Regions from separate parts of the Homo sapiens genome. Here regions 1, 2, 3 and 4 are each reported to be linked to region 5. Evidence: microRNA targets listed by miRTarBase, many of them from high-throughput screens and not tested one by one. Region 5 holds a microRNA gene; each other region holds the end of a gene's coding sequence. Distances are between the middles of the regions.
Evidence for each region. The annotated mature microRNA hsa-miR-30a-5p reads UGUAAACAUCCUCGACUGGAAG and lies in region 5 at 1,194-1,215, opposite strand. An mRNA with a match to its seed (bases 2 to 7 or 8) in the 3' UTR can be bound and repressed. Matches are read on the target gene's strand: a 7mer-m8 pairs with bases 2 to 8, a 7mer-A1 pairs with bases 2 to 7 and ends in A, and an 8mer does both.

Region 1: miRTarBase lists DNAAF5 as a target of hsa-miR-30a-5p. The part of its 3' UTR that is shown has no 7-base or 8-base seed match.
Region 2: the mRNA of VWA8 is a reported target of hsa-miR-30a-5p. The part of its 3' UTR that is shown has no 7-base or 8-base seed match.
Region 3: miRTarBase lists TMEM87A as a target of hsa-miR-30a-5p. Seed matches in the 3' UTR shown: 8mer at 3,014-3,021.
Region 4: the mRNA of SNX3 is a reported target of hsa-miR-30a-5p. The part of its 3' UTR that is shown has no 7-base or 8-base seed match.

Annotation. Positions count from the first base shown.
Region 1 is chr7:785,174-789,231 of GRCh38, forward strand. It overlaps DNAAF5 (dynein axonemal assembly factor 5), which reads left to right. Exons shown (of 13, transcript NM_017802.4): 13 at 344-1,302. The coding sequence ends at 480. Among named protein-coding and RNA genes, the nearest start is that of SUN1, 45 kb to the right of the region's middle.
Region 2 is chr13:41,564,591-41,568,648 of GRCh38, forward strand. VWA8 (von Willebrand factor A domain containing 8) reads right to left here. Exons shown (of 45, transcript NM_015058.2): 45 at 2,245-3,715. The coding sequence ends at 3,607. MIR5006 (microRNA 5006) reads right to left here and starts at 3,805; the gene lies at 3,696-3,805.
Region 3 is chr15:42,208,061-42,212,118 of GRCh38, forward strand. TMEM87A (transmembrane protein 87A) reads right to left here. Exons shown (of 20, transcript NM_015497.5): 20 at 2,387-3,689. The coding sequence ends at 3,648. It overlaps VPS39 (VPS39 subunit of HOPS complex), which reads right to left and starts at 244. Exons shown (of 25, transcript NM_015289.5): 1 at 21-244. The coding sequence starts at 93. It overlaps VPS39-DT (VPS39 divergent transcript), which reads left to right and starts at 341. Exons shown (of 3, transcript XR_932181.3): 1 at 341-624; 2 at 704-857.
Region 4 is chr6:108,208,702-108,212,759 of GRCh38, forward strand. SNX3 (sorting nexin 3) reads right to left here. Exons shown (of 4, transcript NM_003795.6): 4 at 2,521-3,553. The coding sequence ends at 3,448. Among named protein-coding and RNA genes, the nearest start is that of NR2E1, 45 kb to the left of the region's middle.
Region 5 is chr6:71,402,402-71,406,468 of GRCh38, forward strand. MIR30A (microRNA 30a) reads right to left here and starts at 1,220; the gene lies at 1,150-1,220. RefSeq lists an enhancer at 1-216.

The DNA.
Region 1 (4,058 bases), not on the chromosome of region 5:
ACACCCATCCAGCAGGATCAGGTCATTCGTATCCACATTGTGACTACTGGGTCCCCATCCAGCAGCGTCAGGTCATTCGTCCCCAGATTGTGAGTCGGGTCACTCGTATCCACATTGTGACTACTGTGTCCCCATCCAGCAGCGTCAGGTCATTCGTCCCCACATTGTGAGTCGGATCACTCGTATCCGCATTGTGACTACTGTATGTCCACCCAGCAGCGTCAGGTTATTTGCAGATGCTTTTACAGATGCTTGAACTTCACTACAAAGCCAATTTGCACGAGAGGTAAGATTGGTTTCATGTTTGTTTCTGGCATGTTCAAGGTGTTTTTCTGTTTTACAGAGGTCCTCAAAGAGGGCAGCGGGCTGTTCCCAGATCTCCTGGTGAGGGAGACGGAGGCCGTCATCCACAAGCACCGCTCGGCCACCTACTGCGAGCAGCTCCTGCAGCATGTGCAGGCCGTGCCAGCCACACAGTGACCACGCTGGTTTCAGCCACGGCACACCCTTGTCCCCACCTGAGCCAGAGTTTGTGGCCTTTAAATCTCATAAACAAGGCACCTCTGTGCCAGCAGTGAGACTGTGACAGCAAGAATGTACTCCTCAGGACACCTGCCCACTCTTTCCCTGGAATAACAGCCTCTGAGTGGATTCTGCATGTTATGTGATTTGTTCTGTTCATCGAGAGGGCTCCCAAACATCTGCAGCTGATTTGAAATTAAAAGTAAGTCGCAGCCGCTCCTCCCGCAGCCACTTCAGCAGCATCTTAGATTTTAAGCCTCACGTGCGCAGCTGGTTCATGAACTATTGGCTGCATCCTGCTTAGGTGCCCACCAAGAAGGTTTTTACCTACTTAACAAAAAAGAAAGAAGCCAAAGTGATTAGAAAGAAATGAAATCTCTTTTTGGGTTCTGTCTACTGAAATTTAATATCTCAGTGAACAGACTAAAAGGAATTTAGAATCCTAACAACTTATCAGATTTCTCCTGTTTTAAATATACTGGGACTTTAAAGGTTATATGTCCGGTCACCGTATGTTTTAAGTCGGTGTTAATGCTAACAGTGTTGAAAACAATATTTCATGAGATCTAATTGTGGTTGCCCCTATAGGTAGCAGGAAAGTAAAGTTGCATTTCCCTCTCGCACATTCTACACCCAAGTGCCTAAAAGATCTCATTGTAAGTGGGTAGTGTTACCGGAAGCCATTGTGTTCACACGGGGGAAATGCCGTATATATTTTTCAACAAATATTAACGTTTATACTTTCATGTTTGAAAATTTAATTAAAAATGTTTGTTTTAATGATTGTGTATGCCTGACTTTGTGAGTTGGTAACTAACCGACATGTCAGGCAGGGATCCCAGCCTCTAGAATTCCAGAGTTCCTCTGTGGGGTGTCGTAGTGCCCGCTCTGGACACCAGGGGGCAGGAGCTCCCAACACGTTCGGGGAACACCCCTGGTAAGGAGGGCCCCATAGGACTCACCTTGAGAGGGGCTGGGGCATCAGGGTGAGGGCAGGCCAGCCTTGGGGGGGTGTCAGGGTTGGGGGAGGTCAGCCTTGGGGGGCATCATCAGGGTGAGGGCAGGCCAGCGTTGGGAGGGGTGTCATGGTTGGGGAGGTCAGCCTTGGGGGGTGTCAGGGTCGGGTGAGGTCAGCCTTGGGGGGCATCAGGGTGAGGGCAGGCCAGCCTTGGGGGTGTCTGGGTAGGGGGAGGTCAGCCTGGTTGGCAGGTGGGGTGTCCAGGTGCAGAGAGGTCAATCTGGATGGGGGTTGGTTTCAGAGTTGGGGGACGTCAACCTTGATGGAGGGTGTTTTGTCTGGGTGGGGGAAGGTCACCTTTGGGATTGTCTGGGTGGGGGAGGTCAGCCTTGGGGGAGGTCAGCCTTGGGGGTGGCTGGGGTGTCCAGGTTGTGGGAGGTCAGCCTGGGGGGGACGCCGGGGTGGAGAGGTCAGCCTTGGGGGGTGTCTGGGTTGAGGGAGGTGAACCTCGGAGGGTGTCAGGGTTGGGTGAGGTCAGCCTTGGGGGGTATCTGGTTTGGGGGAGGTCAGCCTTGTGGTGTCTGGGTTGGGGGAGGTCAGCCTTGGGGGGTGTCTGGGTTGGGGGAGGTCAGCCTTGGGGGGTGTCTGGGTTGGGGGAGGTCAGCCTTGGGGGGTGTCTGAGTTGGGGGAGGTCACTCTTGGGGGGAGTCAGGGTGGGAGGAGGTCACTCTTGGGGGGTGTCTGGGTTAGGGGAGGTCACCCCTGGGGGGTGTCAGGGTTGGGGGAGTTCAGCCTTGGGGATGGCTGGAGTGTCCGGATTGGGAGGTCAGCATGTATAGCTGAGCCTGCCCCATGGACTCACATCCCCTGCCCTAGACACCCTCGCCACCCTCTGGTCCCCTTCAGAGTTGCACCGTCATGGCTGTTCCCTGCGCCAGCTTCTGTAACTCGTGGCCACAGGGATTTCGGGGGCCCTCAGGGGTGGTCTTCCACCTCTTCCTTGTGTGCCCTTTGACCTCTGTGGCTTCTGCCACATCCTTGAAGAGCCCTCAAGAGCCCCTGGGTCGGTGGTCCTTGGTGGCGATGGAGCCAGTGGCAGCAGCCTCACCTGGAAGCTTGTTAGAAAGGCACATTGCAGGGCCTCAGGCCAGACCTACTGAGGCAGAGACAGGTGGGCCGCAGTCAGCCCTGCAGGTGATTCTGAGGCTGCGGACTGGGAGGACCCCCACCTGTGCACCAAGCAGTTCCCATCCAGCTCCCATCCAGCACGAGGCTCCGTCGTCTGTCTCTGTCACAAGACCCAGAAATGAATGGCAGGGAGCTTGCCCGAGAGGACACACGTGTGAGGGGCCCCTCGACCCCTCGGACGCAAGTGCACCAACCCCTGGGCCGTCCCTCGCCCTGCATGCTGGGGCCACAGCATGGGAAGAGACATCAGCGCTGCCGCTCCGTCTCTACACATCTGTAAAGGGAGCTCCCAGGGACCTGGCACGTCCACAGGTGCGTGTGTTCAGAGAAAGACGGAAACCCAGCCTACAAGGGTTCACAGACACCCAAGAGGCATTACGTCCCTCTCCACTTAATTCTTTGAAATGTTGATAGGCCGGGTGTGGTGGTTCATGCCTGTAAAATCCAGCACTTTGGGATGCTGAGTGGAGAGGATCACTTGAGCCCAGGAGTTCGAGACCAGCCTGGGGAACAGAGGGAGACCCCATCTCTACCAAAAATTTTTAAAATGAGCCGGGCGTGTTGGTGGCCCATGCCTGTAATCCCAGCACTTTGGGAGGCCAAGGCGGGCAGATCTCTTGAGGCCAGGAATTCAAGACCAGCCTGGACAGCATTGGGAAACCCCGTCTCTACAAAAAAATTTTAAAAATGAGTGGGCATGGTGGCGCACACCTGCAGTCTGAGCTACTCAGGAGTCTGAGATGGAAGAATCACCCGAGCCTGAGAAATCGAAGCTGCAGTTACCCAAGATTGCACTCACTTTTTTTAAACAAGTGAGACCTTGTTTAAAAAAAAAATTTTGTAAATCATAAATGAGTGCATTAATACAACATGTACTTTTTTTGTCTTGCCTCTTTCACTCATCAGTTTTGATGTCCATCTATGTTGGGGTGTCCATCAATAGTTCATTCCTTTTTGCTGCTGCGTAATATTCCATTCTATAGATAAGCCACAGTGTGTTCACCCACTCAGCTTTTGACGTGTGTTTGAGGTCTTTCCAGGTTTTGGCTATTACAAATAAAGCTTCTTCCAACATTTGTGTACATGTCTTTGTATGGATAGGTACTTTCATTTCTCTTGGATAAACATCTAGTAGAATGGCAGTCATGGTGGATGTATACTAAATTTTTAAGAAACTACCATTCTATTTTCCAGAGTGGCGGGACCATTTCCACCAGCCCTGTGCAAGAATTCCAGTTCCTCCCATATTTGCCAACACTAGCTAATCAGTTTTTAATTTTAGCCATTTTAATAGGTACATAGTTGTATCTCATTATGGTTTTAGTTTGCATTTCCCTAATGTCTAATGAGGCTGAGCATCTTTTCATATGCTTATTTGCCATCTGTGTAT
Region 2 (4,058 bases), not on the chromosome of region 5:
ACATGGTGAAACCCCGTCCCTACCAAAAAAAAAAAAAAAAAAAATTAGCTGGGCATGGTGGCATGAACCAGTAGTTCCACCTACTCAGGAGGTTAAGGCAGGAAGATCTCTTGACCCCACGAGGTTGAGGCTTCAGTGAGCTATGATTGTGCCACTGCATTCCAGCCTGAGTGACAGAGCAAGGCCCTATCTCAAAAAAAAAAAAAAAAAAAGAAAAAGGAAAAAGAACCTTATGATATAATCCTGACCAGAAATTGGACTTAAGTATTTTTCAAAGCCATTTATGTTACTGGTTGGAAAAAAATGATAAAAGTGGACATTTTGTTTCTTAATAAGATTAAAAAGCTATGTACGATGTATTAAATATAAGTCGACATTTGATTATTCCTTAGATGCAATTCCAGAAACAAGTTGTCCAGGCAGGAGAGGCTGGCTTAGAATTTGTGGAGTATCTTACAATTGTGGTCATTGGAAACAAATCGAAATGCAGCAAATAAGCCACTATTCCTGTTGTTCCCCTTGTCTGTTTCTCCCAGCTTTATTCACTTAGAAACTTAATTTTGCCTGATCTGACAGGCACAAGAAGGAGCCAGGTGGAGGGAGGCTGGAAGCCTCCAAGGTTGGTCTTTCAGGAACAATGACAATGCTGTCTACTGAAAACCACTTCCAAACGGCTTTCAAAGCCCAGGAGTTTGTTTAGAGAAAATCTTGCTGGCATTGATGGATTTCTTCTCCTCTGACAGTTCACAGGAAAGAGTGTAGTATAAAGAATTAAGTGATTCATTCCAAACATCTGATGGGTTCCCTTCAAGTACTCCCCCTCTGATCCACTTCTTATGGCTGTGCTGAGCCTCCCCATCTGTGATGAGGTCATTTTGTCGGGCACACAGAGGATTCTAGGGGGAATATGCATCATATACTGCAGCTATTCACGGCATTCATTCCTCCTGGCTGCTCATGGGTAACAATGAACCTTCTCAGCATTACATGTGCTTACTAAGGAGACAGGGGTTAGATGCCTTTCAGTGGAACCCCCCGAGGCACACAATGCATTTATTATAATGTCTTGGCCCTAAGAAGGGCCTGGGAACAGCTTGGAGTGGTCTATAATTAAGTACATTTAATAATAAATGCACATACTTCTTAGGTATTGCAAGAAGTGAAAATAAGCTCTTCGTCTTCTCAGTCTCAATTCCCTTTCCCCATCATCCTTCCCCTTCACAAATCAGAAAAGCCAGGAGTACTGTGCTTTTTTAAAAATAGCAATTGCAGAGGATGTCTGGCTGGTCGAGAAAGGTAAATTAAATTACTTGAGAACATTCTTTCCATGTCAAAAAAAATGGCTTCTGCCTCCTCAGGTAGTTACGCATGGGGAGGATTTGCTAAAGGTTGGCTGTTCCTTTAATCTCCCTTGGATTCCACTTCCAAAGGCTTTCAGGGGCAGTGACCCGCTAGCTAAGGGGCATCCCTTGGGGTTAAGCTGCCACTTGGAAGGGCACTTCCTCAGATTGCTGCTGTGCCTAGCAAGGAAGCAGCAGTTAGAAGTGTTCCCCCGACAGTGTCCCATGTCCTCGGTCCCCACACCTCTGAGTGCTCGAATATGGGCAGATAGATAGACTTTCTGAGGAAAGGGAGAGGAAGAGAGCCCTGTGAATGTGGACAGGGTACAAGAAGAGAAGTCACACTGGAAGGAAGAGAAAAAGGCAGCAGGAGTGTGACATGTACATTTGTGAGATGCAGCAAGGGGCGTGGGACTGCGAGGGACGCAAAGGCATTAAGGGGCCTGGAGGCTGGAGGCCCAGCTTTGCCCCTGCCTGGCTGTGAGTGTGGCCTATTTTCTTGAACTTCTCTAAGCCTCAGTTTCTTTACTTGTAAAATGAGGATGTTAATGGTACCATGAATAGTTAGTGAAAGGTCTAGTAACAGGAATCTTGGGAAAGTGACTTAAATTCTCTGAGCCTCACTTTCTTTATCATCTGCAAAATAAGGTAAAAAATACCCCTGTTACATGCATTGTTGTAAGGATGAATGAAATAATGTATGCAATCACTTAGCATATACCTGGTTCACAGTAAATCATCAGTAAATGCTAGCTGCTGTTGTGGCGACCGTTGGAATGCAATTACATTTTTAAAGATACATGTTGGATTGAAATTGTTTGCATCATTGAATGGTTCAATACATGGAGCAGGTGTCTCACTAGAGGAACAAGAAAGCCATGCAAACTCACCAGGTAGTACCACGTTGGAAATCAGATTGCTTTTATTTATTTATTTGATAGTTAATGATAGGGAGAGGGGTGATAGAACAAATGGGTATTATCTTTTCTTCTTTCCTATAATTAATTAAAATGAAATTATGGACCTGTACAATTTCAATAGATATGGATGGATAGGATAATATTATTAATAATAGTTTTTCCAACTTAAGACCAGTTTTTTCAACTCACTGGTGCCCTAACGTTTCTGATTTTGCTATCAATCGTGAAGAGGAGTTTTTAAATTATATGGTTAAAGAGAGAATGACTTTTGCTGAAGCATCTTATTTTAAACAAAGTAATATTGAGCTTATTGATAAAATAAAGGTCAGCCCAAGAGTGTGTGGGAATAAGGTACATTTTGAAAGAAAAGAGAATGAGGCTTTAAAAAAAGTTGTTTTCTTTCTTTTTGTTACAGCTAAAAATTTCCAATCACCATTCACTTCAAATATACCACCTTGATTTTACTTTTTTTACTTTGCTTTAGGTAATTTTTATATGAATATTCTCAATAAATAATTTTCGTGTAAGCATTTATTATTTTGAGCATTACAGTTTGGACCCCAAAATGGAGTACTGTGAATTTTTTGAGAGATGCTAGAAGAACAGAAGAAACAGTAAACTTTTAAGGCAAGACATCTTTCTCCTCCCACTCTAGCAGCAAGGAGAAGAGGACATTTGCTCTTTAAGAGCCTTTTAAAAGTCACGTGGAAAGGCAAGCACTCCAAGGATTTTTTGATTCCTTTTGGCTTTGGCCAAGAAAATGAAATTATTGAGAACAGCCAGACTTTCATAAGATATTGCTGTTGGAGGGACTTTTTGGTGGGTTAAATATTATAAAATCATTGTTTTCTGGTCAATACAGAGCAGGGAGAAAATAAAAATAATTGTTGGATAGGAGCATTTTGGTGGGTTTTGCACAGACTTGCATCTTGTGTCAGAATGTGACATCAAAGGCTCAGTTTGATGGGGTCACTTTTCTAACGTGACCAGATGATGTGTTAAGGCAAAAGCAAAGTATTTTCTCCCCCTCAGGTTTTTGGAAATAGACCAAACACATAGTTCTCAAAACCACCTTCCTTTAACCCCAACCTTTGATAAAGTGCAGGTCAACTAGCTTGCCCTAATCACTTCTAAACTCATCAGTGGAGTATCTTTCCATGTTTAAGTCTCCTTCTGGCTGCTTCTCTGAATTCTCATTACGGAGCAAGTGTAGGAAGACCCAGGAATGCCGGAATCATCCAGTCACTGCATGGGTTCACTTCATCCATATCTTCTTTTTTTCAGAATACTCTTTATTCCTGTCTTATTTCAAATCCTGGTGTCATCAGGGTGATGAAGGGCACTTCTTAGACACTCGACAACATGGTGGAGGTGAAGATCTGTTGTAAAATCTGAGGGATATCCTTGGTATCCATGGCAACGAAAGACCGACCAGCTGGTAAAGTTCTCTGAAGCCTGCCAGGATGGAAAGGGAAAGGAAGTTACCACTGTAAATGGGGCTCCCTTCCACCTCCTGCCCTGGCAAACCACAGCCCCCTAATGGTTTCTTAGGAAAGGAAGTTTTTACTTTCTAATACCTTGCTCTCTGCCTACCATTGAATTAGTCGTCATTAAACAATGAAAGGCTTGGAAGAGCAACAAGGAAAGACACAGCAAAAGCAGGGAACTGAAAGAAAGGTCTTTTCAGTGAGAAAGTCAGTGAATTTGAAAAGAAAAAATTTTCTTCCTTTCTTTACTGCCATTTCTTGGTATTTCATATTCTTTTGGTATAACAGAGCCATAGGGATTCATATGGAAT
Region 3 (4,058 bases), not on the chromosome of region 5:
CCCGCGGCCCCTCGGCTCACCCCAGGCAGCCAGACAGTCGATTTGCAGAGGCAGCTTTTCTAGGATCGGCACTGGCTCGAAAGCGTCGTGCATGGCGGCAAGGGGAGAGTTGCCACCGCCGTCTCGCCCAGAGTGTTCCGGGCCGGGCTGGGGTCCGGAACGAGTCTGGGCTAAGGGTAGACCGGGATCCGGCCAGGAACCCCCCGGCTACAGGCCCTTCAACAACACAGCCATCGTCAACCCCGGACTTCCTGCTAGTTAGGCCCGCCTCTTCCGCAGCCGAAGTCCCGCCCCTTCCTCCCGGTGCACTCTAAATGAATTGTTTTGTTGCTGAGTTGCCATCGTCACTCTGGACCCATAGCTACTCCATCCCGAGTAGCCATGGGCTTACCATAGAAGGAACAAACTCTTAATCTTAGAACTGCTTTAGGCAGTGGGCGTGATGGTTAAAAACTCGGCCTTTGGCGTCGACCTCAGACGGAGATCTACCAATTAGGAAATTAGCTGTGATTTAGAAAATTTAATATTTCGATGCCATACTTTCCTAATCTGCAAAATTTTTGTAAATACCTGTGACCTAGTGTCGTGAGCGCTTAGCAACACCTGACACCCACTAAGCTCTCAGTAAGTGGTAGCTTTAGTATTACCATTATATCCCAATTAGTACAAGCACCTTACCTTAATGCTTTCATGGTTGTTCTAGGCCAGTGGTTCTGAAAGTGGTTCTAGACCAGCAACAACAGCAGTAGCAGCAGCACCTGTGAACTTGTTAGAAATGCAAAGTTTCAGGCCCATTCCAGTTCTACTGAATCTGAAACTCGAAGGGAACAGCAACCTATGTTTTAATAAACCCCAAGGTGAGTCCATGCACTTAAAAGCTTGAGAACCACCATTTTAGGTTAGGGTTGTTCAGCGATAGCACTACCGGCATTTAGGACAGGATAATTTCTTGTTGGGGGAGGGGGCATGTTCTGTACAATGTAAGATGTTTAACAGCATCCCTAACTTCCACCCACCAAATGCCAGTTATCTTCCCCACAGAGGTATAAAAATGTCTCTTTTCCGTATGTCCTCTGGGAGGCAAAATTACCCTGAGAACCACCATTTGAGGCCAATGCTTTTCAAATTTAACGTGCATACAAATCACCTAGAGACATTGTTAAAATGCCTCTTTTGATTCAGTAGGACCAGAGTAAGACCCTCAGTTGAGCACCAAAAATCTCCCAGATGTTGCTGGTCCCTGGATCACATTTTGAGTAGCAAGAGTTTAGGCAAGAGATGATTCACTAACTCTTGGAAGTCAGTGAAATAAGCCTCCTTTTAATTTGATGACCACATTCCTACCAATTCAACTTTCCAAAGCTGTGTCTTACATCCTAATATTCCTTTAGGAAGGTGTCATGGCTTTTCCTCCTATAGGACCTGGGACCTGTACTGTCTGCGGTTACCTTAGTATTCCCCTTGAAGACTTAAAAAACAACAAAGTTTGGGCTGCAAGAATGATCTATATCTGGTCATTTCCCCCTAGGAAAACATCGTAGGTCAAAAAATTAAGCATTTGGGTTTAAAGCAAAAATGTAAAAGAAAAAGGGTAAGTCTGTGATATGAAGTCAAAAAAACTGGTCCTGGTCATTTTATTTTTACACAATATCAGTTTCTTCATATGTAAATTAGGAATACTTGTCCCATCTTTACCAAATGCTGTTCTGATAATCAAGTGAAAAGTACTTTCAAGTAGTCAAAAACATGAAAATTGCTACACAAATCCTGTGTTATAGCTGATTTTCACCATAGAAGCTGATCACCTTCTTAAAAATTTAGAATTACCAGCTGTTGTGCTGGAAGGTCTAGTACCTTTTCGTTCAGGCCCAAAACCCTAAGGTTTATATTGTTTTACAGATTACTGCAAAGCTATCAATTTCTTCTGAACCTAAGAAATGACACACTATATCTATTCCCAGTAATACAGAAAGCTGTAAGTAGAATTATCAGGGCCCAGGCTATAGAACTTGAACTATACACTCCCGCTTAACACAATGGGCTTTTTTTTTTCCTAGTCTCAAGTCAACATCAAAGCAGCCTAAAAAAATAATTTGACCAACTATCCTGCTGCATTACAACTATTATTCATCTGCTACGTTTTAATATGCAATAGCAGCATGCAACAATACCACCAGCTTTTGGCTAATGACTTAGCATGAGAATATAGTCAGTTCTTCAGATTGCTGTTCCTCAGAGATACTTCCTAGGAAACTTTTTTAAAAATCACCATAGCAAAGAGTTGTAGAGAAACTACCTAAGGGTTAACACTTTCACTGCAGTATGAGTTAGTGAAGATTGTGGTCATGTGGTCATTGGTTTTAACAGAAAATAAGACAATCTAGAATAAAAGCCATAGAAAGAAATTTTTCATGAGTTTGACAGAAAGAGTCTTTAGAAAAAGTTTGAAAAAAATGAGAAAAATACATTAATTTTGTTAAATTTTTTTATATTAAAAAGTGGCATGAACTTTTTATGTAGAACAAAAATCTTGGGAAGGCAAAATTGGATAAAACCATTAAAACAGAAATAGAGTGCTTCAAATGAATCCCATCACCTTGTGATGTCCCTTATTAACAGTCTCTAAACCAATACCAGATACCAGAACAGTCCATCCTAAAGAACGAGCAGCAGTCCAGGGCCTCCACGCTACTTCATGCAATAACTGTTTAAATTAAGCCAGCAGGACCTGTTTCCTTTGTATAAGCTACAACTTCTGAAGCATTACAGTTCCTCTAGCACGGTGCTCAATCACAGCACTTGGAGCACCTCTCTGCATAAAGGCAAACAAAACATTGCCTAAGGACCCTGCAATGCCACCCTTGGAGGCTTACAAAACAGTAGTTAAAAGTTTCGGAGTGTGCACCACATTGCCAGCAATGGGATGTGTCACAATAGCAGATGTCAAAAGAGTTAAGCTAATATTTCTCTTTAAAGTACATCTGAAATAGAAAAATCTTTAATATACACCATTTGTAAACAAAATTGCACTTGATTTTGCTTTTTTAAATGATCTGAATCATACTGTAACAGTTTCTCTTTTTTTTTTTTTCTTTTGATCATTGATAGAACTATGGCTCCTTAACTCAGAAGGGCCCTTTTTTCTCAAAACAACCTCTGCAAGATGTAACCTTGACTTCCCAGGAAAATGAAAGGTAGTTAACAATTTCCCCCATCACCTATGTAACTCCCTAAATAAATAAAAATTACAGGCAGTTGCTCCTGGAGATTACATATTATGGTGTTGATGACAATCTTTTAGAAGACGTTAAACTTTTTAGTTTGTCAGATTTAAAAAATGAAACATTACAGAAAGTTCAGGAACAACACACTTAAGTTGCATGAACATCCATGTCAGAGTCTGGGAGGAAAGGGGGCAGCAGTGTTGTAAATAAGAAGCTCGTAGATTTTTCTCATCTTATGAACTTGTTTTCAGTAAGATGTTCTCTTTGTTCTGACACCTCTCGCCAACTCCAATGCCCAAAGATCAAGGAACAGATCAGGATGTCATTGCTTCCTTTAATCCCATGGAGCCGTACAGAAGACTGACACAGATGCTGATCTCTTCCCTGATGGTAGCCATCTTTAACTGCAAATCTTCCCATTCCTTACTCCATTTTGGACCTTTCAAAGTGTGTGATCATTCGTTCCTAGGGAAAAAAAAAAAGGTTGAAGTATATTAGGTTAAAATGATCTATATTCCAAATATCTTCTATACAGACTATCCAAGCAAACATCTTCCACGAGTACTTTATGTTAATTAAATGTTTAGAGAAATGGTTCCTAAACATTTGTGAAGATTTTGAACATACAGATGTCCAGACCTCACCCAAGAACAACTAAATCAAAAGCTCTAGGCTTCTGGACAGAAAATCAGCACTCAGAAGGAAATGTATAGAGTCAGCTAAGATCTTATGTAAACAAATATTTACATAAGATTAGGCTTTAATAAAAATGTGTAACTCCTCTAATTCAGGAATTTCACTTGAAGACCCAGTGAAGGATGAGGGCAAAGACGT
Region 4 (4,058 bases), 37 Mb from region 5:
ACTCCAGCCTGGGGAACAGAGTGACACTCCATCTCAAAAAAAAAAAAAAAAAAAAAAAAAAAGTCATAGGCCCTGTCCACAAGAAGGAAGTACACCAAGCCATGGCCTTTAGAATCAAACGTCTTCACAGTTTAAATGCAGTACCATCCTCTCCTGGTTAACCTTGAAAATTCTGCTCAAGCTTTCAAAACCTCAGTCTTCTCATTTGTAAAAATAACATTATCTACTTCATAGGGAAGTTCTGTGACAGAGATCACAGTGGAATTATTACAAACTTATTCTCTCTATCCCAAAACAGTTTTAACTCCTTTCCTAGCCTAAACACTGGCATATTGTTAGTAATAGCAGCTGGCACCCACTGAGTATTAATCTATATGCGAGGGAGTGGGCTAAACTCTGTCCATCCATACCTCAAACACATTTTATCTGTAAAGGCCTTAGAGGCCACAGCCTTATTCTTTCATTGGCCATATTCGCCCCACTCATGTAACCAAAAAAGGCAAAGCAAGCAGAGGCAACAGGACGGAATTTTAATCTAGGATGGCCTCCTAGCAAAGAGGGCTGAGTGGAAAAACCATGGGATGTATAAAAAGGAGATGCTCCTCCTCCCCTAACACCCCTTCCCCAAAGTCATAATCACTACCAGGGGTCATGATGTTAGAACCTCTGGGTAGGAAACCAAATACCAGATAAACCTATTCTGGAACTGCCATGGCAAATGAGTAAGAGTGGTACCATTTGCTACTACTACTATTATGACTACCACTGCCAACTGATAACTATTATTATGCTTTTATATGTTCCGACACTGTCCTATGAATTTTACATGTAATCCTCGATGTAAGTTATAAAGTTACCACTGATATTGACCCTTTATAACTGGCAGGAGTTGAGACAAGGCAATTAAATACTTGAATAGTGGACACAGAGCCTGAGATTCCTTAGAATTATCCATCTATTGCTTTGTAACTCACTGCCAAATTAATTTTTTTTTAGGAAGATTCTTAAGGGATTCTGGAACCCCCTCCTATGTAGTTAGAATTAAGAGCACCTGCATTTTTACTTCAGCGGGTTAAAGGCATAGTTTCACTATAAACCATGGTCTCAATTTCCTACAAGATAACACTGAAAAGCACCTTCCTCCATTAGGCAAAAACACGTTACCTGGAATAAACTTTTCACCTACTTTAAAACCCTTGACTTTTCAAGAGCATGCCTGCCCTTAGGAAATTGTGGTAGAGGTTAAAAGCGGGCAGGCTAGTACAAGCCATCCTAAACCACGCTATTCCTTGTCTGTAAATGATCAAAATCAAGACTCCACGGTGAGTGGAAACCTTGACACTACTAACATTTTTCTGCTGTGGGAGGCTGGCTTGTTCATTTTAAGAGGTTTAGCAGCATCTCTGACATCCACCTGTTAGAGTCCAGTAACATTCCCTAGTTGAGACAACCAAAAATATCTTCAGACATTGCCAAACGTCCCCTGGGGGACAAAATCATCCCTGGTTGAGAACCACTGCTTTATTTTAATGTTTAACAGAAAAAAAAATTTTCTTTTGAGACTGGGTCTCTCACTCTTGCCTAGGCTAGAATTAAGTGGCATGATCTTGGCTCACTGCAACCTCAACTTCCTGGGCTCAAGATACACTTCCACCTAGCCACCCAAGTAGCTGGGACTACAGGCACACACCACCATGCCCAGCTAATTTTTAAACTTTTTGTAGAGACATAGTCTCACTATGTTACCCAGGTTGGTCTCAGAACTCCGGGCCTCAAGCAATCCCCCTGCCTTGGCCTCCCAAAGTGCTGGCACTACAGGTGAGAGCCACTGTGCCTTGCCGAGAACCACTGCTTTAAAGAATTATTTGGTTTTGCAGAGCTACCATTATTCTGTTCTGCATACCCAAAACTGACAGCCTCTGACTTTACTTCTCTAGTTCACTGAAATAAAATTTACATGTTGTTTAGCTTTGTACCTTCTTACAGTAATTGAAACATCCAGTATTAGGGAACTGTGAAATACTGTTTGAGCAACAAAAGGCCTTATGGGGCAACTCTGACTTCTTCCTATGACTTCTATGTGCTTGGTGGACATCCTAGTTTGGCCAAGACCCAAGCTTGTTTCCTTTTAAATGGACTGATCCATCTTCAGAGGAGACGCATCTGCTGTAGGAGGACAAAATTTCTTTACTTTGGGATTTAACTCCAAGTCACAATGGGTCCCCAAACCACCGCAAGTTGTACAAACTAGAGACCACATTCTGGCTGAAAGGTCTGAACACAACACAAGTTAGGCAGCAAGAAGTCATGTGTTTTCTGGTATCTTATCATTTTTGCAGGTCAGGCTAGAAGACTGTGCCCTTCTCTTAAAGAGGATAAAGTGTGCTACTATCCCAAACCAAATTAAAGAGAAAGCACAAACCTGCTGACTAAGAAGAGTTATTACACCCTTGCTAAGTTTGTTTAAACAAGTCACTCAGTTGACTAGGAAAAAACTTCTGAAAAATAGGAGAAATGGTATTTTATCTTTGAAAGTCCTTTTAATAAATGAGATTATAAAGCAGTTTTCAAATACACAAAGTGCTTCAAAATGATTCAATAAGCCTTAAGCAATACATTTTTTAGTATATCACTTTTGTTGTTGTTAAAAATACCCCATTCAATGGATGGAAGTATATTTGATATCACCACTGTTTAAAGGGAATGGAGTTACAGGAATGAGAAGTATATAATTAGTAAATAATCCCTCTCAACAAGTGACTTAAGTAGTCACTCATAGAGAGCAAAAAAAGCTGGAGGCAACACAATCAGTGCATATCAGAAATGCATTTTAATTTTTATTTGAAAACAACTTAAATTTTTAGACAAATGATTTTAGTATATAAATTTGCTTTTGTTTTTATACAGAATATAAAGATTTCCCTCATTAATCTTCCATGTGAAGGGTATTACAAGCCTGGAGGAAGATACTTTCTGCACACAAGTATGTATCTTATGTGTGCAGTATTGGAAACCAATGGTGTAGTGCTCCTACACATAAATGGGGTCAAGTGACATCACAAATTAAAAGGGGGAAAGAGAAATATTCTAGTTAATCAGATGCAAGAAGCAAACAAGACGCAAAAACTGTGCAAATAAGACCAAGCCAGTAACTTTAGTTACGACACTGCAGATTACACTGGAATAACAGGTTTGTGAGGCTATAGTGTGCACCACATTAAAACAGCAAGAAAGAGCTATTTATATAGAAAGGCTGGAATGAGGGATTTTTACTAAAGCAAATTAACTTCTTGTCAACTGCCAAAACAAAACAAAACTGAGCATATGAGTGTTAGTATACTGAAGGCATGTTATACCAGTTTCTGTGCAGCATGCTAAAAGTTAGAACTTCTTCACTGGTGCTTATCAATCATTAATAGTCACGTTTTTGCCCCTTCTTGCCAAATTTCAGGCATGTCTTATTTTAGATGGAGTATAGCTTTTATCTATTATTTCATCTTGTAAAAACATGTGAAGACAACGTTCGTTCTGTGCCAGAGGATGACCAGCGACCCTGAGAATAAAAAATATAAATTTAGTCCAATATTTTATACAAGGTGGGGGAGTTCAAAACACATATTTTAAAGTTGAGAAGCATGTATAATTTTTTTTTTTTTGAGATGGAGTCTTGCTCTGTTGCACAGGCTGGAGTGCAGTGGCTGATCTTGGCTCATGGCAACCTCCGTCTCCTGGGTTCAAGTGATTTCGTGCCTCAGCCCCCTGAGTAGCTGGGACTACAGGCGTGTGCCATCATGCCCAGCTAATTTTTATATTTTTACTAGAGACGGGGTTTCACCATGTTGGCCAGGCTAGTCTCAAATCCCTGACCTCAAGTGATCTGCTCACCTCAGCCTCCCAAAGTGCTGGGATTACAGGCGTGAGCCACTGCGCCCGGCTCAGAATCATGTACAGTTTACCAATAAGTATTATTCTGGACTGTCCATAAAGCTATGCACTATCAACTAATGGTATATGTTCTTTTGTTTGGTTCACAACTCTAATTAAGAAAACATTAATCA
Region 5 (4,067 bases):
AACTTAAAGACATTTCTAACACATATTTCTCTCCATCCCAGGTATTAGAAGAAATGCTACTATTTTAAATAGTGGTATGATCATACTGTTTTAGTATCACTTCTTTATCATCATCATCAATGGGTATTAAACAGGGAAAAGAAACTCTTTTACATTAATGGAAACACTATATATTTATAAAATACTGTGTTTTAGAGGACAAAAGATATCACTTTCATATCTTTTTAAAGTGTCTAGTTTCTATATAAGTGTATCCTTAATATTTCTATTATACACTTAAATATTTCTCTTATACACTTAAATATTTCTATTTAAGTGTATAATATTAAAAATATCCGCCATAAGAAAAATACGCATTTACAAAAAAGGAAAATTAGAAATTATGTCCATCACAGAAATCTTCTACAGGATTCTGAATCTTAAAATTGTCTTCATATATTTAGGATAGAATTTGATGTATTTATTATTTTTAAGAGATATGAGTTATTGCATAAAGCTAAGTTAAAAGTTCAACCAAATGGAAACAGTATCCACAAATTCCTAAAATACTATTCTAATCATCTGAAACAAGAATAGGTTTTTCAAATAATAGAGTTAGTTGAATCAGTATTTGTTTGTTTTAGACACTTTATTAAGCTGAGAGCTGCTACTTTATTACTTAAACACTAAGCCTATAAGGAAATAAAAGGGGTTTAATCCAAGTAATGTGAAAATAACTAACCCTTCATCTTACTTTTTTCCCCCAAATAATTGTGGTTTCATTAATGGATTTTTTTTTTGTGAATGGGTCTAAAAAACACCTATTTTGAAACTGCAGAAAGGGCAGGACAAAACAAATCACTTCATAGATTTTTCTGGGAAATATTGCCCTACTACGCTTTTAAAAAAAATAAAAATACTGTAACACATTTCCTCATTTCTCTTACGAATACTTTCTTTTTGATATTGCAAATTCTATGCATACACAGAGCACCTCCTCAATGCCCTGCTGAAGCCCTCTAAAAATGTACAGACATGGTTTTAAAGTGATTTAATTTATACCATTTTAATTCAGCTTTGTAAAAATGTATCAAAGAGATAGCAAGGTATTCAGTTTTAGTAAACAAGATAATTGCTCCTAAAGTAGCCCCTTGAAGTCCGAGGCAGTAGGCAGCTGCAAACATCCGACTGAAAGCCCATCTGTGGCTTCACAGCTTCCAGTCGAGGATGTTTACAGTCGCTCACTGTCAACAGCAATATACCTTCTTTAGCCTTCTGTTGGGTTAACCTGAAGAAGTAATCCCAGCAAGTGTTTCCAAGATGTGCAGGCAACGATTCTGTAAAGTACTGAAGCCTCATTCAAACAGCAATATTCTAGAAAATGTCTCAAATTCAAAACAAATAAGAAGGCTCATGGATGTCTATTATTCATCACCGAGCTTCTAGTTTCTATAAAATTTTGTGATATACTAAAACAACATATATAAATGGTTTCATTCATTATTGTTAGCCACAAGAAGTAAATAGGCAAGTGGCCAGGTTACTTAATATGATTTCAACATGCATTATGTAATTACAATCCTTTAAGCAAAAGTGACCAAACACAGAAACTAAATTATCTTAACAGCGTAAAGCGTACATTTAACATCAAATACTGCAGTTGAGTGAACTTAGACTACCGTGAAAATATAAAAGGTCTACTTGGAAAGTTATAAACTCTGACAAAAAAAAAAAAGACTTACATGCTGCTTTTATAGATCACTTTTGCTCTAAAGTCTGCTCCCAGAGAGGACTTGTACAGTCAGCTGATTTTTGAAAGAGTAAGCAACAATCAGGAGAAAAACAGAAAAGAATAACGAGGTATAACACAGGCATATATCAGTATGTGGATCAAAGTTTCCCACTGGAAAAACACAGAACCTATCACTCACAACAGTGACGCACATTAACTCCAAATTTGAATGTTTTGAATTCCACTCCCATTCTCTTATGAAAATAAATGAGGAAAACTGAAGGTTAAGCTCTATCAGTCACTACTTTCCTGAAGTAATTCAAAACCATTCTGAATCTAGTGAAAGATTAAGTTGATACAGAAAAGTGGGTGTGCCTTTCCCTGAGATTTGTTTTTAGATGAAGTTACCGTAAGGTTCTTAAATTGTGTAAGTCTTAGTAGTTTGTGATCTCAAACCCGAAACAAAAATAAAATCCACACAAAAAGCATCATGTTTACTGAAACTAACAAATATGAAGAACTCCATAAATTACTTTCTCAAAGCAAAGGGTAACTCTATCCCATTAAGGTTAAAAAAGTTAATCTTTGAGTCAGCAGGTGAAAACAAGCTGAATTATGTTGTGGCCTTTTTCTTTATTAACTAAGGACTTTGAACTATTAAAACTTCCTAGGGAACCAGTTTTCTCAATGGGTCAAGTCACACAGGGGAACAAAGCAAACTTTATCAGTGCTGTGCAATTCTACATTCCAGAAATTCTTAGTACTTGGCATTCATATACCACTGCTGACTAGAGCTTGAGTCAATCCACCAAACTCAGCTATGGCTACCAACCTTGTGAACTTCTCACCAAGATACCCACTTCTTTTAAGTTAGCCACGACTAGACAGGCAGAGTACTCTTTAATTAAAATAGATAAATACCAAGGCTTACACCCTGGGGGGACATTGTATATCAGTGACTCTTTACAAAAAGAAAATATTTTTACCACCATAAATTTTTCTCAAAGTGACAGGTCCCCTACTTGCCTTGGAATCTTACCACTTTTAAATAACTGTAAATTATTAAATAACATGTAAAACAGTGACAAGTAAATACTAAGCAAACAACCTCAAATAACAAATAATTACTTAAATAATTCTATTGCCACCCTCTCACTTTGAGAATTGCTGATCCAAGTGGGACCTATACTACTCAGTAACCAAAAAAACAAGCATGTAGTTTAAGTAATAATGAGTCTCAGTTAAACTGGTAAAATTGTCTGGCATCTGACTGGAATAAATCTGCTTTAGCTTTCACATAGACTTCACCTAGCTCATATCTTGCTAAAAGAGGAGCCCACATACATACAGGCAATAAAGTGCTTTTCCATTTATGAAGTATTATAACTAAGATCTTATGGTCTTTAATTATTTTGTTTAGTGAAAATTTGATGTTTATTCATGAAGTTCTGAGCAAAACGCTGTGTTTTCAAAGTTATGTTAAGGAATTCATTGGATCAGCAATTCTCCAAGTGAGAGGGTGGCAACAGAATGACCAGGACAGCTTCTTCTAACCCCACATACCTGATTGCCTCTGCCACATCCACATTGCAATTCTTATTCAGCTGATGGGGAGGCTGCTGGGTATGTAAATTTTGCAAAAGCTATCAAACAATTTTGCTACACCTTCAGGGCAGAGAACCATTGATCTAGAAGGACTGAGCTAAATAAGTTTAAGACTAAAAAATCTTGCCATGACCTGAGAAATATGACCAGTAAATCCATTTAAAAATCGTGAATTAAAAACAAATATGGCAGAATAAGATCCAATTGTGTTCAATACATCAGACTCTGATTTGTCTTATATAACCCTAGAAATGCTTACAAAAAACAATGTACCTACTTTAAAACCATAAGGATACTCTTTAGCCCTGTTAGACAAGGTCTCTAAAGTCTTCCCACCCTAAATTGCAAATCTGGATGTCTGTACCCTGGACAGGTTTTATTATCTTCCTCACATCAGTTTTGTTTTAAGTGCTTGCAGGATTAATTCTTTCTGGTGGAGGGTTTAGAAGCAGCCCGAGATAAAGTGTAAAAATTTTTTTTAGCTACCCTGAACCATTCAATCCTCTTCCACCCTTCTCCTCTCATGTCCACATAACCTTCTCGCTCTCTATCCTTGGAGTGTTTGCAGTGAAACTCTAAGAATGAACATGTTCCATGTCAGCACTGGACCCAGTGCCCAGGCTCTACATCCTCCAATCCTCCATCTCTTTGGGGGCTTAGTGTCCAGGGTAGCTGCATTAATAGTTTTGGCATTCATCTTCTGTCTTGTTCCTTTGGTAAAACACACCTAAAGGCAAGAAATCTAGGTGGT